Linked DNA regions of Homo sapiens: region 2 is reported to be linked to region 1. Evidence: microRNA targets listed by miRTarBase, many of them from high-throughput screens and not tested one by one. Region 1 holds a microRNA gene; the other region holds the end of a gene's coding sequence.
The links. Region 1 holds the annotated microRNA hsa-miR-3064-3p (UUGCCACACUGCAACACCUUACA, at 4,654-4,676, shown strand). A microRNA usually pairs through its seed, bases 2 to 8, with sites in the 3' UTR of a target mRNA and lowers its output. Matches are read on the target gene's strand: a 7mer-m8 pairs with bases 2 to 8, a 7mer-A1 pairs with bases 2 to 7 and ends in A, and an 8mer does both.

Region 2: miRTarBase lists ZNF267 as a target of hsa-miR-3064-3p. Seed matches in the 3' UTR shown: 7mer-m8 at 5,808-5,814 and 8mer at 5,725-5,732.

What each region holds. Positions count from the first base shown.
Region 1 is chr17:64,498,329-64,505,450 of GRCh38, reverse strand. MIR3064 (microRNA 3064) reads left to right here and starts at 4,612; the gene lies at 4,612-4,677. It overlaps DDX5 (DEAD-box helicase 5), which reads left to right. Exons shown (of 13, transcript NM_004396.5): 2 at 609-774; 3 at 1,133-1,229; 4 at 1,335-1,468; 5 at 1,583-1,648; 6 at 1,880-2,021; 7 at 2,103-2,263; 8 at 2,353-2,525; 9 at 2,902-3,012; 10 at 3,228-3,289; 11 at 3,382-3,441; 12 at 4,678-4,902; 13 at 5,125-7,122. The coding sequence ends at 5,528. It overlaps MIR5047 (microRNA 5047), which reads left to right and starts at 4,138; the gene lies at 4,138-4,237. RefSeq lists a silencer at 2-71.
Region 2 is chr16:31,915,270-31,922,391 of GRCh38, reverse strand. It overlaps ZNF267 (zinc finger protein 267), which reads right to left. Exons shown (of 4, transcript NM_003414.6): 4 at 5,035-7,122. The coding sequence ends at 5,911. Among named protein-coding and RNA genes, the nearest start is that of ZNF267, 45 kb to the right of the region's middle.

The sequences.
Region 1 (7,122 bases):
ACTCCTCCCCCGGTAGTCGCCGGCTCCTCCTTTTCTTTTTTCCTGCGTTATATAATTTTGATTCGTTGATCCGGAGCTCTACCGCGGCGTTCCCCCAGCTGGGTTTGCTAGCAGAAGTGTTTCTGAGAAAACCCTTGTTCTGTTATCGCTGACTGTACTGTTTAGGTTCTTACCACTAAAGCTGTTTGGTTCCAAAACGGCCATATGAGTAACATCGTCGTGATGCTCTTCGGTTCATGTAGCCTTGTTATTGCTGATAGTGAATTGCTAGGCTGGTGGGGAAGATTACAGTAACCACAAGAAGTGGTGTGTGCCAGAATCCCAAATTCTGGCATGTGGGTGACAAGTTTCCGACATGATAAATCCCCGGCTTCCGACATGATAAATCCCAGGCTGTTTACATGACCTAAGTAATGTGTACTTGGGACTACGGGAAATGTTAACTGTGGCTGTTGAGAGAGAGAGAGATTTTCACGAAGGACAGTGCTAGGTTTACCTCTCGAAGTCTGTTTTCAGTGGTTTTTAGCTTGTGCCAATGGATGACAAATCTATACAGAAACCTGGGTATAGCCATTTGAAAATGTGAATAACGTTTTTTTTCATTCCAGGTTTGGTGCACCTCGATTTGGAGGAAGTAGGGCAGGGCCCTTATCTGGAAAGAAGTTTGGAAACCCTGGGGAGAAATTAGTTAAAAAGAAGTGGAATCTTGATGAGCTGCCTAAATTTGAGAAGAATTTTTATCAAGAGCACCCTGATTTGGCTAGGCGCACAGCAGTGAGTAAATTCATGTGGCTTCATCAGGCTGTAACTCGATCGTGGATTCTAGTAAATGAAATTCTGACAGGTGTTTTGCAAATAACTCAATTTTGGTAGAGTTACATGTTCTGACTTCATAATTGGGAAAGGTGTGACTCACTTTTGGATATAGGTGGCTTTGGGATTTTTACTTAAATTAGGTTGAGTATAACAATAAATTTTTTTTTTCATAATAGGGTGTTCATAGGTGGGTCCAGATTAAAATGAAGGCTACTTTAAACTAGTTACTAAATTATGAAGTTAGGGGCTTATCAATTACGTATTTAGCTAGGGGTGGTTGTCATGAATTTTAAGACTGTTATAATTTGTTTTGCAGCAAGAGGTGGAAACATACAGAAGAAGCAAGGAAATTACAGTTAGAGGTCACAACTGCCCGAAGCCAGTTCTAAATTTTTATGAAGCCAATTTCCCTGGTAAGTGCTACTTTTCAGTTCTACCTACCCGTGTTTTTGTTTCCACCTACCCCCTCTTTTTCTTGGCATCACTAATTTTTACTAAATATCTGTTACTAATTATAGCAAATGTCATGGATGTTATTGCAAGACAGAATTTCACTGAACCCACTGCTATTCAAGCTCAGGGATGGCCAGTTGCTCTAAGTGGATTGGATATGGTTGGAGTGGCACAGACTGGATCTGGGAAAACATTGTCTGTAAGTTTGGGAGAACTCTTGAGTTGATCTGATATATGCAAGAAAATGTAATGGTAATTTAAAAACGAGTATTTTAATGTGATTTCTGTTTGTCCCCACTTTCACCCTAAATAGTATTTGCTTCCTGCCATTGTCCACATCAATCATCAGCCATTCCTAGAGAGAGGCGATGGGCCTATTGTAAGTATATATTTTTAACTTTTTATTAGAAGCATAATGTGTAGATTTTAGACTACATAGCTAAAGATGTAATCATTTGTGGTGGTTTTATATAGAGGTTAGCTCACCCTATTCAGCTGGAGCTGTTTTGGGTATTGGACAACACATGAAGAAAGGATCTGCTAGTATAATAAGTTAGCAGTTTAAAACTAGTATCCAGGTTTGTGCTGAAAGCTGTTTCTCTTTCCTTAGTGTTTGGTGCTGGCACCAACTCGGGAACTGGCCCAACAGGTGCAGCAAGTAGCTGCTGAATATTGTAGAGCATGTCGCTTGAAGTCTACTTGTATCTACGGTGGTGCTCCTAAGGGACCACAAATACGTGATTTGGAGAGAGGTATGTAATGAAAAGGGTTTTATTTGTCATTGGTGCTAAATATCCTAGGTATTGTAGTTACACTTACGTATTTAATTAAAGGTGTGGAAATCTGTATTGCAACACCTGGAAGACTGATTGACTTTTTAGAGTGTGGAAAAACCAATCTGAGAAGAACAACCTACCTTGTCCTTGATGAAGCAGATAGAATGCTTGATATGGGCTTTGAACCCCAAATAAGGAAGATTGTGGATCAAATAAGAGTAAGTGTCCTTTGAAATATGTGATCAAACTGAATTGTGTTTTCACTCTTAAGAGTCTGATACTAATTTTTCCCCCCAAAATCCATTAGCCTGATAGGCAAACTCTAATGTGGAGTGCGACTTGGCCAAAAGAAGTAAGACAGCTTGCTGAAGATTTCCTGAAAGACTATATTCATATAAACATTGGTGCACTTGAACTGAGTGCAAACCACAACATTCTTCAGATTGTGGATGTGTGTCATGACGTAGAAAAGGATGAAAAGTAAGTTTTATTAACTCTGTTATATTTGCTTCCTAACAACTTTGCTGTAAAATTGAGGGATCATTGTTTGGTGAGTTGTTTTAGGTTATTTCAGTTGGTGTGATTTCATTTAGTTAGCCTACTAATCCTGAAAATTTCTTGAATCCTTCAAATAATGGCTGTCACCATTTATAGCTTTCCTATAGAAGGAATTCATGTGTCCCCTGGTTGACTTAAGGACCAAGGGTCGAACTGCTCGATAAGTGGATTAGCAGGCGTTTCCTCTTTGACTTCCAGCCATGTAAATTGAACTTAATGTTTTGCTGACCATAAATGTGTGGCCCTAGCAATGGTCTTTTAAAACTCAGGATTTTTCCTTTCTCTCTCCTATTATTAGACTTATTCGTCTAATGGAAGAGATCATGAGTGAGAAGGAGAATAAAACCATTGTTTTTGTGGAAACCAAAAGAAGATGTGATGAGCTTACCAGAAAAATGAGGAGAGATGGGTATGTGTGAGCTCCTCCATTGAAGCAGATTGATTAAAACAGCTTAGGAAAGGGCAAACTTGGATCACGAGCAGTGGATTTTTTTCATATCTGATAGTGAATTTAACTTTTTCATTTCTGGCGAAATTAAAGAGATCTGTGACCAAAAGTGGTCAAGCACTGGAGTCTGAGGTTTTCAATGTGAGTTTAATAACACAACTTGTCTTTTAACTTAGGTGGCCTGCCATGGGTATCCATGGTGACAAGAGTCAACAAGAGCGTGACTGGGTTCTAAATGGTAAATATTTCAAATGAAGTATTTTTCCCCCTTACTTAACCTAGCTAGAATTCTGCTCAGATAATTGATCATGTATATGCCTTCCTTTGTAGAATTCAAACATGGAAAAGCTCCTATTCTGATTGCTACAGATGTGGCCTCCAGAGGGCTAGGTTAGTACAAACTCGCATTCATGGCTTGGTTTCCCAGAAGATCTCCATTTAACTTTTTTAAAGAAAGTTTATTGCTTTCTTTAACCTGCATTTTTTCTAAGTTTTTTTTCACATAAAGGTGCTGTCTTTGTGGCAAGGCCTAGGCATGACAATCGGAGGACTCGAGGGGGATGGAGGACTAGTGATCGGCTGGCTGCTTCCAGTCGATTAGAGAGGTGAAAAAGCTGAACGTGTGCCAGTAATCTTCAAAAGGCAGAACATATCACCTCTGCCCCGTAAACTGTTCTCTCCGAGGGAAAAAATGGAAGTTATCCTCACAGTTCACTGCCGTGGTATTTCTTCTGTCCCATGCTTTGCATGACTGCCATGGTACAGCCTTGTTTCAAACTGTTCACTGTGATCTGTGGGTCTTTGAGTTTCAGTGAGTTTGCTGAAATGTCGAAGAAGTAGTTCCAAACTTCAATGTTCAATGAAATTTTTGTTCAAGTTTGAAATGGAGAGAGCAGCTTTAAAAGGTACTAAGCCTTTTACAAATTGGTGAGTACTGGCACATGAGATCTAGAGCAGGAGCAACTTCTCACACATAGTAAGTGGGAAAAGAAAGTGCTTTGAAAGTTCCTCCCTCACCTACACAGTAGTCGTCATGTCGAGACCTGCCAGAGAGAGACACATTCTCAAGTGAATCCTGGCTTCTTGGAAGCGCTTGCCTAGACGAGACACAGTGCATAAAAACAACTTTTGGGGGACAGGTATGTTTTCTTGCAGCTGCGGTTGTAAGGTCTTGGCAAGACAAGCAGTGTGGCCAGAATTTTGAACTTCTGATGAATGTGTAATGCAAAGGACCTTGTACATTTTTTTGTTTCAAGGTCCTCAAAATGAGCACATGAAGAGGTTGCTGTGAAACTTTAAGTGGCCCTACTGCGCAGAAGCATTCAGATGTCACTTGATGATCTGTAAGGGAACTTGCTGATTTGGGAATGTGCTTAGGGAACACACATTCCTTTTGACAGGGTCTGTCACTGGGTGGGTGATGAATTATACAGATGACATGTGCTTTTTTTTCTTTTTTCAACCTCAATGGTATTCCTACAGGAAATGGATAACCATTTTAACTGTATTTTTTGCAGCCCGTACCTTCTTGGGAATACAATTGTCTAACTTTTTATTTTTGGTCTGGCTGTTGTGGTGTGCAAAACTCCGTACATTGCTATTTTGCCACACTGCAACACCTTACAGATGTGGAAGATGTGAAATTTGTCATCAATTATGACTACCCTAACTCCTCAGAGGATTATATTCATCGAATTGGAAGAACTGCTCGCAGTACCAAAACAGGCACAGCATACACTTTCTTTACACCTAATAACATAAAGCAAGTGAGCGACCTTATCTCTGTGCTTCGTGAAGCTAATCAAGCAATTAATCCCAAGTTGCTTCAGTTGGTCGAAGACAGAGGTTCAGGTAAGGATGACTGATAGGAAATGTTGGTAGTTACGAGTCACATCGTTGTCTACAAATCCATTTAAATGGTATTGGAGGGTGAGTAAAACCTTGAATGTGAAAACTTAAGCTGAAAAATTGTAAAAACATTTCACGCCTACCATGAATAGATCTGTTTCTTTCTGTCCACAATGATTTGTGTCATAGACATAATTGATCAATTTGCAATTGTTTTCTTGACAGGTCGTTCCAGGGGTAGAGGAGGCATGAAGGATGACCGTCGGGACAGATACTCTGCGGGCAAAAGGGGTGGATTTAATACCTTTAGAGACAGGGAAAATTATGACAGAGGTTACTCTAGCCTGCTTAAAAGAGATTTTGGGGCAAAAACTCAGAATGGTGTTTACAGTGCTGCAAATTACACCAATGGGAGCTTTGGAAGTAATTTTGTGTCTGCTGGTATACAGACCAGTTTTAGGACTGGTAATCCAACAGGGACTTACCAGAATGGTTATGATAGCACTCAGCAATACGGAAGTAATGTTCCAAATATGCACAATGGTATGAACCAACAGGCATATGCATATCCTGCTACTGCAGCTGCACCTATGATTGGTTATCCAATGCCAACAGGATATTCCCAATAAGACTTTAGAAGTATATGTAAATGTCTGTTTTTCATAATTGCTCTTTATATTGTGTGTTATCTGACAAGATAGTTATTTAAGAAACATGGGAATTGCAGAAATGACTGCAGTGCAGCAGTAATTATGGTGCACTTTTTCGCTATTTAAGTTGGATATTTCTCTACATTCCTGAAACAATTTTTAGGTTTTTTTTGTACTAGAAAATGCAGGCAGTGTTTTCACAAAAGTAAATGTACAGTGATTTGAAATACAATAAATGAAGGCAATGCATGGCCTTCCAATAAAAAATATTTGAAGACTGAATTAAGTGGAAATTGTACTTTATTTTATATAATGTCATGTAAAACTTTGCTTAAGATGGTCTGGTTTTTTTTTTGTTTTTGTTTGGTTTTTTTTTTCCATGAAAACAAATGACTGTTCCTTTTTATTTAATTTGGGAGGCAGGGGGAATCAGAAGGCCCTTCTTTATAATGAGCTATTCATATTGCAGGAGTCAGAATGAATTGATACAGGTGAATTTTTAGTTACAGGCTAAATTGCATAAAAGCTTTGTCAGCTTCCAGCATCAGGGGAGTCATTTAATAGCCTTTTTCCTTATTTGCTAGTATGGTTAAATGAGAAAATAGTAAAATAGATACAAAGTCATCTATATAGTGTGAGAACGTGGGTGACTTTTTCAAAGTTTATAATTTAAAAAGCTCCAAATAACTGGCTTTTTCAAGAGACTTATACTCATGCTCTTGGCTATACTGTGAATTACTGAAATGTTGAACAAACCTGTGAAAGACATACATTAGCCCTTTAAGATGGCCAGGAGCTAAGCTTGAGTCTCCTTTACTGAATTTCGTTCTTAGTGCAGGTTACTTGTAGATTCTAGTCTTCACAGGCTCCCTGGGGCTCTTAACTAGTCACACTGGGAGTCATGAATGTCTTTCCAATAATTCAGGGAATTCTAGAGATCCTCAAACTGTAAGGTCTATTCATACTCAACACAAGGAAAAAACCTCATTAAAATTAATGACTAATCAGGAGGCAACGTAACCAAAAGCACAGTGAATGAAAGTTTTCATGGTAGGTTCAACATGGGTTTATTGCTAGAAAGATCCAGGGGATAGCTTTAGGTTTAACTTCGGCTCACCAACGTAACTTTCTAATCATTTATTTCAGTAATAGCTAGAAGTGGGTCTGAATGTTTTCCCAGAGTCTGATACGTGTTTTTTTTTGCCAGAAGAGAGGTCTTCAGGAGACTTCATTTAAATTCTGATTATTAAACTGAGGCTTTAATTGATGTTAATGCCTTATGTCAAATGTAAAGTTAGAATTTGCTAGGGCTGGGATAGGGAGTGATATTTCTAGGACTTAGACATTGAAAACTAATTCAGCCTGTAGTAACCTGGATGGTTTTCAATGGCATGGTTAGTCAAATTCATGGTTTTAAACTTAGAAGCAGCTTTCGGGGGAGAGGGTAGGTTGGAGCATTTATTACATATTTTACTGTTTAATGTCTTAACCGTGGGCCTTTTAATTTGTAAACACTGAAATGATTGTTGGGCTGTGGAAAACATTTACCTATTTACCTTGGAAGTTTTAAAAG
Region 2 (7,122 bases), not on the chromosome of region 1:
GTATTGATCTCTCATGATACAAGAAAGGTCTGCCCTGGATTTTCTGTAATCCTCAGACTGAAGGCTGGCCCTGTTTTATGAATCTCACGGGGAGGCAAATTCCCCTTGTGTGCAAATTCTATGAGGGATCGCATCTGTTCTGTATTCTTGGGTTTTACAGCAAGAAGAGACAAGAGGAAAAGAGATTCCTTCCAGGAAGGCTGCTATAGAGCATTCTGAAGAGCCCCAGATACTGCATTCAAAATTTAGTGGTGCAGATTTAGGTTCCCAGAGAGACAGGGAAGTGGAAGAGGCCAACTCAATGCGCAGGTACATGTCTGTGCTACCAGGCCCCATGTTCTCTGAATCAATTTCTGTTATAAAGTCCCCAGGTACATTGAAAGACAGGGCTGGAACGGATGATTGCCACTTTATGAGGTTATTTTATTACAAATCTTTTCTAACTATGCCCCAGATGAAACTGCAGAGCCCAAAATAGGCAGCAAGATCATACTGCATTCACATTTTGAGGGCAGGCAAGATCTTCACTGAACAATTGTGGCTTGGGGGAAGAAAGCCTGAAAGAAAATTTGATGGGTATCTGCCAAAGTCCCTTCTAGTATGAAACCTGATCGGTACCTTTTATGTTTATATTTGATCTTGTAATTCTGAACAGTGCTTGGGAAATATAATTAAAACAACATTGCCTCCCAACCTAGAATGCCTCCCCACAAAGGTAGAAGAGAGATAAAATTGTTTTATAACTCAAACCAGAATGTGATGTGCATCAGAAGCAAAACATGTAGTGTTTAAACATCACAGTCTGGTTTGAGTTATAAAACATATGTGTTGTCAAGATTAATATTAGTAGCCCTCAAGTAGGAAAATTTGACAGCACCATTTGGCACAGTTTATCCTAAATTCACCTGGTAACTAGAAAGATGATCTAGGTTTGATAACTGGCTTTATTAAAAGGAAAAATAGGCCGGGCGCGGTGGCTGACGCCTGTAATCCCAGCACTTTGGGAGGCTGAGACGGGCAGATCACGAGGTCAGGAGATTGAGACCATCCTGGCTAACACGGTGAAACCCCGTCTCTACTAAAAATACAAAAAATTAGCTGGGCGTGGTGGCAGGTGCCTGTAGTCCCAGCCACTCGGGAGGCTGAGGCAGGAGAATGGCGTGAACCCCGGAGGCGGTGCTTGCAGTGAGCCGAGACTGTGCCACTGCTCTCCAGTCTGGGCGACAGGGCGAGACTCCGTCTCAAAAAAAAAACCGGGGGGGAAAATAAACTTCCAACTTTTGTGACAGAAAATTGTTTTGCAACTTGGAATTAAGTGCCTGATAAAATTAGGCTTCTATCTTACTGCAAAATTGTGAGATCGGGTACTATCTTTTTTCGTATTTATATTTCAAATACATTGTTCCCAGGTCCTGGAGAAAAGTATTCGTGTGTGTGTGTGTGTGTGTGTGTGTGTGTGTGTGTGTGTGTGTGTTTTAACAAAGAGAAGCAAAACAGCCAGCTAAATGTCGGAAAGTTGCACATTTTGGAGACTGATTTAGTTGGCTAGATGGGCTTTTTAACGTAGTGTGTTTTTTAGATTACTGGCTTCAGGGTGGAGCCACTTAATAAATAAAGCAAAGGAAGCATGCAGTTTTTAGGGCTTAATATTTAAATATGTGCAAAGCAGGAGCAGCTGGAAGGCATAACACTTAGATTCTCCCAAATCAAGAATCCCATTTTTACATTGAATTCTGAGCCCCCAAAAGAAATGCCATGCCAGAGGACTGGGCAGTTCAATGATTCCATAGTGCACCTCAGTAGAGGGACATTCATTTGAGGTTGGTAGGCAATCCTATGCCAGCACACACTATGATTACTGCATCCCACATGGGTGTCTTACCCCTCGGTGGGGTGGCTTGGGGGCTGTTTCTGTAGCCTCTACATTCTAAACCATACTTTTTCTATCCAAACACCCAAAGAAATAAGCAACTCCCTAGAGTAATAAACATTTACTGTAAGCGACTGCTGTCAGCCCTCTAACACCATAGCTCTTGCCAGTGACTCACCAGCAATTACATCCACCTAGTCAAGTTCTCTCATAGTACAATGTAATCTCTGGTATCCCCCAAAGCCAAGGAGATCAAGTAATGCAATACAAGAAAGAGCAGAGTGTTAGACCTGAGAGGGATCTCTCTGCTTACAACTCTGAGGGCCTCATGAGAAAAAGCAGTTTCCTCCCAAGAGGAGGAGACTGTGACAACTTTTCTGTTTTCTGTGATTCTAGGCTAGAATTCTGTTAGAATTCTTTTTTTGGGGGGCGTTCCCCTCATGTGGCATTTGGAGTGGCAAGAGGAAGGACAGACAGAAGTAAATGGAGAAACAGAATTCATTTGACTTTTACAGAGAGAGGAGATCTTAAAACCATGCATATGTGTATGTACGTAGAGTAAATATCAGTTTTTATTAAGTCAACTTTGGACTATAGAGCTCTTTAAAAATCCTTTTCCTAACTGTAATTCCTACTCAAGTCATTATACTTTTGCTGCTAGCTGGACCTCTGTAGCCAAATGAGCAGCCATTACACCTTAGTCGCTGTTCAACACCCTTCCTCACTGCAGTGTGATAGACCACTCTCAGATAACAATCATGCTAATTCTGCCAGAAGTATCCTAACTAGAGGCCCTATCTTGAATAAAGGCCAGGTAAAGCCAAACCTATGGCCGGGCACAGTGGCTCGCACCTGTAATCCCAACACTTTGGGAGGCTGAAGTGGGCAGATCAGCTGAGGTCAGAGATTCAAAAACAGCCTGGCCAACATGGTGAAACCCTGTCTCTACTAAAAATATATAAATTAGCCGGGTGTGGTGGCGGGCACCTGTAATCCCGGCTACTCGGGAGGCTGAGGCAGGAGAATGGCTTACGCCCAAGAGGCGGTGATTGCAGTGAGCCGAGATTGCACCACTGCAGTCCAGCCTGGGCAACTCAGCGAGACTCTGTCTCAAGAAAAAAAAAAAAAAAATGCCAAACCTGCTGGATTACTTTCCGAGGGGGCTGGGCACTCTTGGTCACAAGATGTTTATGGTTGAAACACTGAGTTAATGATGTTAATCAACTAAATAAGAACTCAAAACTTAAGAAAATGTCCCAGTACTTTAAGAAAAAGCATTATTAGTTTAAGTATGTTTTGCTTTAAAAATAGTACTCATAAATTCTTGCTGAAATCAATAGTAACATAGAAAAGTAACAATACTAATAGCCTGTCATAAGCTGATTAGAATCCTCTGTAATAAAGTATACCATTCTTAATAACCTATATAACCATTTGAAATGGGTGCATTTCTCCTCTTGCTTTCTGAGGAAGGCCTACTCTAACAGAGGAGCTTTCAATAAACTATCTCTTCTCATTGCAAGGCATTCCTCTTCCTGCTTTCTGAGGATGCCCTACTCTGTAACTGAGTAGTCTCTAATAAACTTTACTACACTCTGCAACTCACCAAGAATTCTTTCCTGTGTGAGATTCAAGAACCCACTCTTGGGGTCTGGGACAAGATCATCACATCTCTTCTAGTGACTCTGCCAGGACTTGAATGAGGTGAAGTCCCAACTCAAAGGAATGAGGTCCCAACCCAAAGGAAACAGACTCTGCAGCACCAATGGGCTGACGCAAACTCTAGTTGTAAATTTTTGACAAATAAACCCTTACGACCTTCACCTAGTTTAGAAACAGAACATTTTCATCATCTTCAGAAAATTCACTCGTGTTTTGTCCCAGGCACCTATCTTTTCTTCCTCAGCCAGAGGCTATCAATGTGTTTATTTCACCATAGGTTTATTTTGCCTGAAATAATACAATACATAAATATACAAAACACAATTTTATGTCTACCTTTTTTCACTTACGAGGTCTATGAGATTCATATAGGGTGTGAGCTTTAGGCTGAGTTGTATTCTGTTATATGAATGCTATGCAATTAATTCAAACCACTGCTTTAACCCAACATCTTTTGGTGAACTACTTACAAACTGGCTCTCAAATGAATGTAAAACATTTGCTGCTAAGTTGTGGCCTTTCAATCTTACCTGCCTTATCTAATCATTATTAAGATAGTCACTATGAGAAAACTATTCTCCAAATTATTGAAAGTTTAAGTCCTCCAGCAAAAGGAATATTAGGGAAGACATTTCACTGTTAACCCATAGTATATTATTTCCATCTGTTAACCACAATCTTAGATAAGATGGAATAGTTTAACACTGGTGTCAGTACAACATTTCATTCATTGTACATCAGTGTTAAAACATGAAAAACCAACTCATTTTATTAAAAGAAATTAAGTTCACCCATAGTCTACAGCATTTTAAAATCCACTATATTCTTCCTGGTCAAAATACAGTTACAAGTACTCAAGAAGCATTCTTTTTTTCCAATATACTAATCTTGCAGTTCTGTTTTCTACGTTTTTTTAAAGTGAGGCTAATTATTTAGTGAATGTTGATAGGAATTATCTTCACATTTCCCTGATACAGGTGAAGATGTTATTCTCATCACATCAAATACTCAACTTTTTCACTATGTATTCTATCACATCAAATAATACTAAAGACTCCTACTTTATTCTGTTTTAAAGATATGTTAGTACTTCAACTCAGTGGTCCTAACCTTTTTGGCACCAGGGATTGGTTTCATGGAAGACAATTTTTCTACAAACTGGCAAGGAGAGAGATGGTTTTGGGATGAAAATGTTCTGCCTCAGGTCATCAGGCATTAGTTGGAGTCTCCTAAGGAGCACACAACCTAGATCCCTCACATGCATAGTTCACAATAGGGTTTATGAAAATCTAATGCCACCACTCATCTGAGAGGAGGCAGAGCTCAGGTGGTAATGCTTGCTCACCCACCACTCATGTCCTACTGGTGCAGCTCAGTTTCTAACAGGCCACAGACCAGTAACTGGTCTACAGCCTGGGAATGGGGACCTCTGCTTTAAATGAAGTCTTTTTAAAAAAAAAAAAAAAAAAAAACTTATGGAGGAATTGAAGTAATTTCAAAAATTCAGAATATCCCTCTTACTTTAATATAGAAAAGAGCTCTAAACACGTATATGTTTACATGCATTACTACTTTATTCAAACACAAAGAGCATATTTTTAAAAATTTTCATGTGTTTTACATTTGGCATTAAACTTCCATGAAAAATGCTGATATTAATGATATTAACGTAGAATGACCTCACATTGTTCTGATGCAGAAAAAAAAACAGAACACATATTTTCACATGAACACCACGGATTAAGGAAAAGCAGCAACAGATTTGAAAGCTGAATTATATAAATAATATTTGCTTTCCAAAAACCTCAAATACTGTAAATACAAATGAAGTATCTATGAAATATACCTGTCAAAACATCAATGTTCTTGCTACTTTAAAACATATAAGCAAATAAATTATCTAATTATTTTGCCTTTAGATTATTCTGTACAAAAAATACTCTTATTTAGTATAAAGGCTGAAAGTGTCTGTGCTTTAGTCCTTTCTCACATAAATTCTCTGACACATTTAGACTTCATTTTTTATTAAATACTTCCTCACATTTATTGCATCTGCAAACTTCCTTTTTCTATGAACCCCTAGGTGACTCATAAGTTTGATATTTTGAATAAAACTTTTCACATTTTTACATCTATAGTGTTTCTCTAGTATGGATTATCTTGAGTAAGGGTTGAGCACAGTTTAAAATAATTTGCCACATTTTTAATATTTGTATGGATTTTTTCAGTTTATATTCTCTGCTATTGTGTAAGGCTTGAAAATAGTTAAAGGTTATGCCACATTCTTAACATTTGTAGGGTTTCACTCCCATATAAATTATCTGATGCACAATAAGACATGGGTAACAAGTAAAAAATCTGCTCCATGTTTTACATTTTTAAAGTTTTTCTCTAGTATGACTTCTCTGATGTGCAATGAGGTATGACCTAGAGTTAAAGGCTTTGCCACATTCTTCACATTTGTAGGGTCTCTCTCCACTATGACTTCTCCGATGTGTAGTGAGGTATGACCTATAGCTGAAGGCTTTACCACATTCATCACATTTGTAGGGTCTCTCTCCAGTATGTCTTCTCCGATGTGTAGTGAGGTATGACCTAGAGTTGAAGGCTTTGCCACATTCTTCACATTTGTAGGGTCTCTCTCCAGTATGACTTCTCTGATGTGTAGTGAGGTATGACCTATAGTTGAAGGCTTTGCCACATTCTTCACATTTGTAGGGTCTCTGGCCAGTATGAATTCTCCGATGCTGAATAACATCTGAACTATAACTAAAGGCTTTGCCACATTCTTTACATGTATAGGGTTTCTCTCCAGTATGAGTTCGCCGATGCACAGTAAGACCTGAGGAGTCACTAAAAGATTTGCTACATGCTTTACATTTGTATGGTTTTTCTCCAGTATGAATTCGATGATGTCGAATAAGGTGTGAACTATAAGGAAAGGCTTTGCCACATTCTTTACATTTATAGGGTTTCTCTCCAGTATGAATTCTCTCATGCACAATAAGATTTGAGAAACAAGTAAAAGGTTTAGCACATACTTTGCATTTGTAAAGATTTTCTCCAGTATGAATTTTCCGATGTTGAGTAAGGCAAGAACTACGGCTAAAGACTTTGCCACATTCTTTACATTTATAAGGCTTCTCTCCAGTATGAACTCTCTGATGCATAATAAGATTTGAAGAACGAGCATAAGATTTGCTACATACTTTACATTTGTAAAGTTTTTCTCCTGTATGAGTTGTCTGATGTTGAGTAAGGCATGAACTACGGTTAAAAGCTTTTCCACATTCTTTACATTTATAAGGTTTCTCTCCAGTATGAATTCGCTTATGTTTAGTAAGGTATGAACTACAGCGAAAGGCTTTGCCACATTCTTTACATTTGTATGGTTTCTCTCCAGTGTGAATTCTCTGATGCACAATAAGATTGGAGGAACGAGTAAAAGATTTGCTACATGCTTTACATTTGTAAAGGTTTTCTCCAGTATCAATTTGCTGCTGTTTAGTAAGGTATAAACTACAGTTAAGGTTAAAGACCTTGCCACATTCTTTCCATTTACAGGGTTTCTCTTCGGTAGGAATGATCTG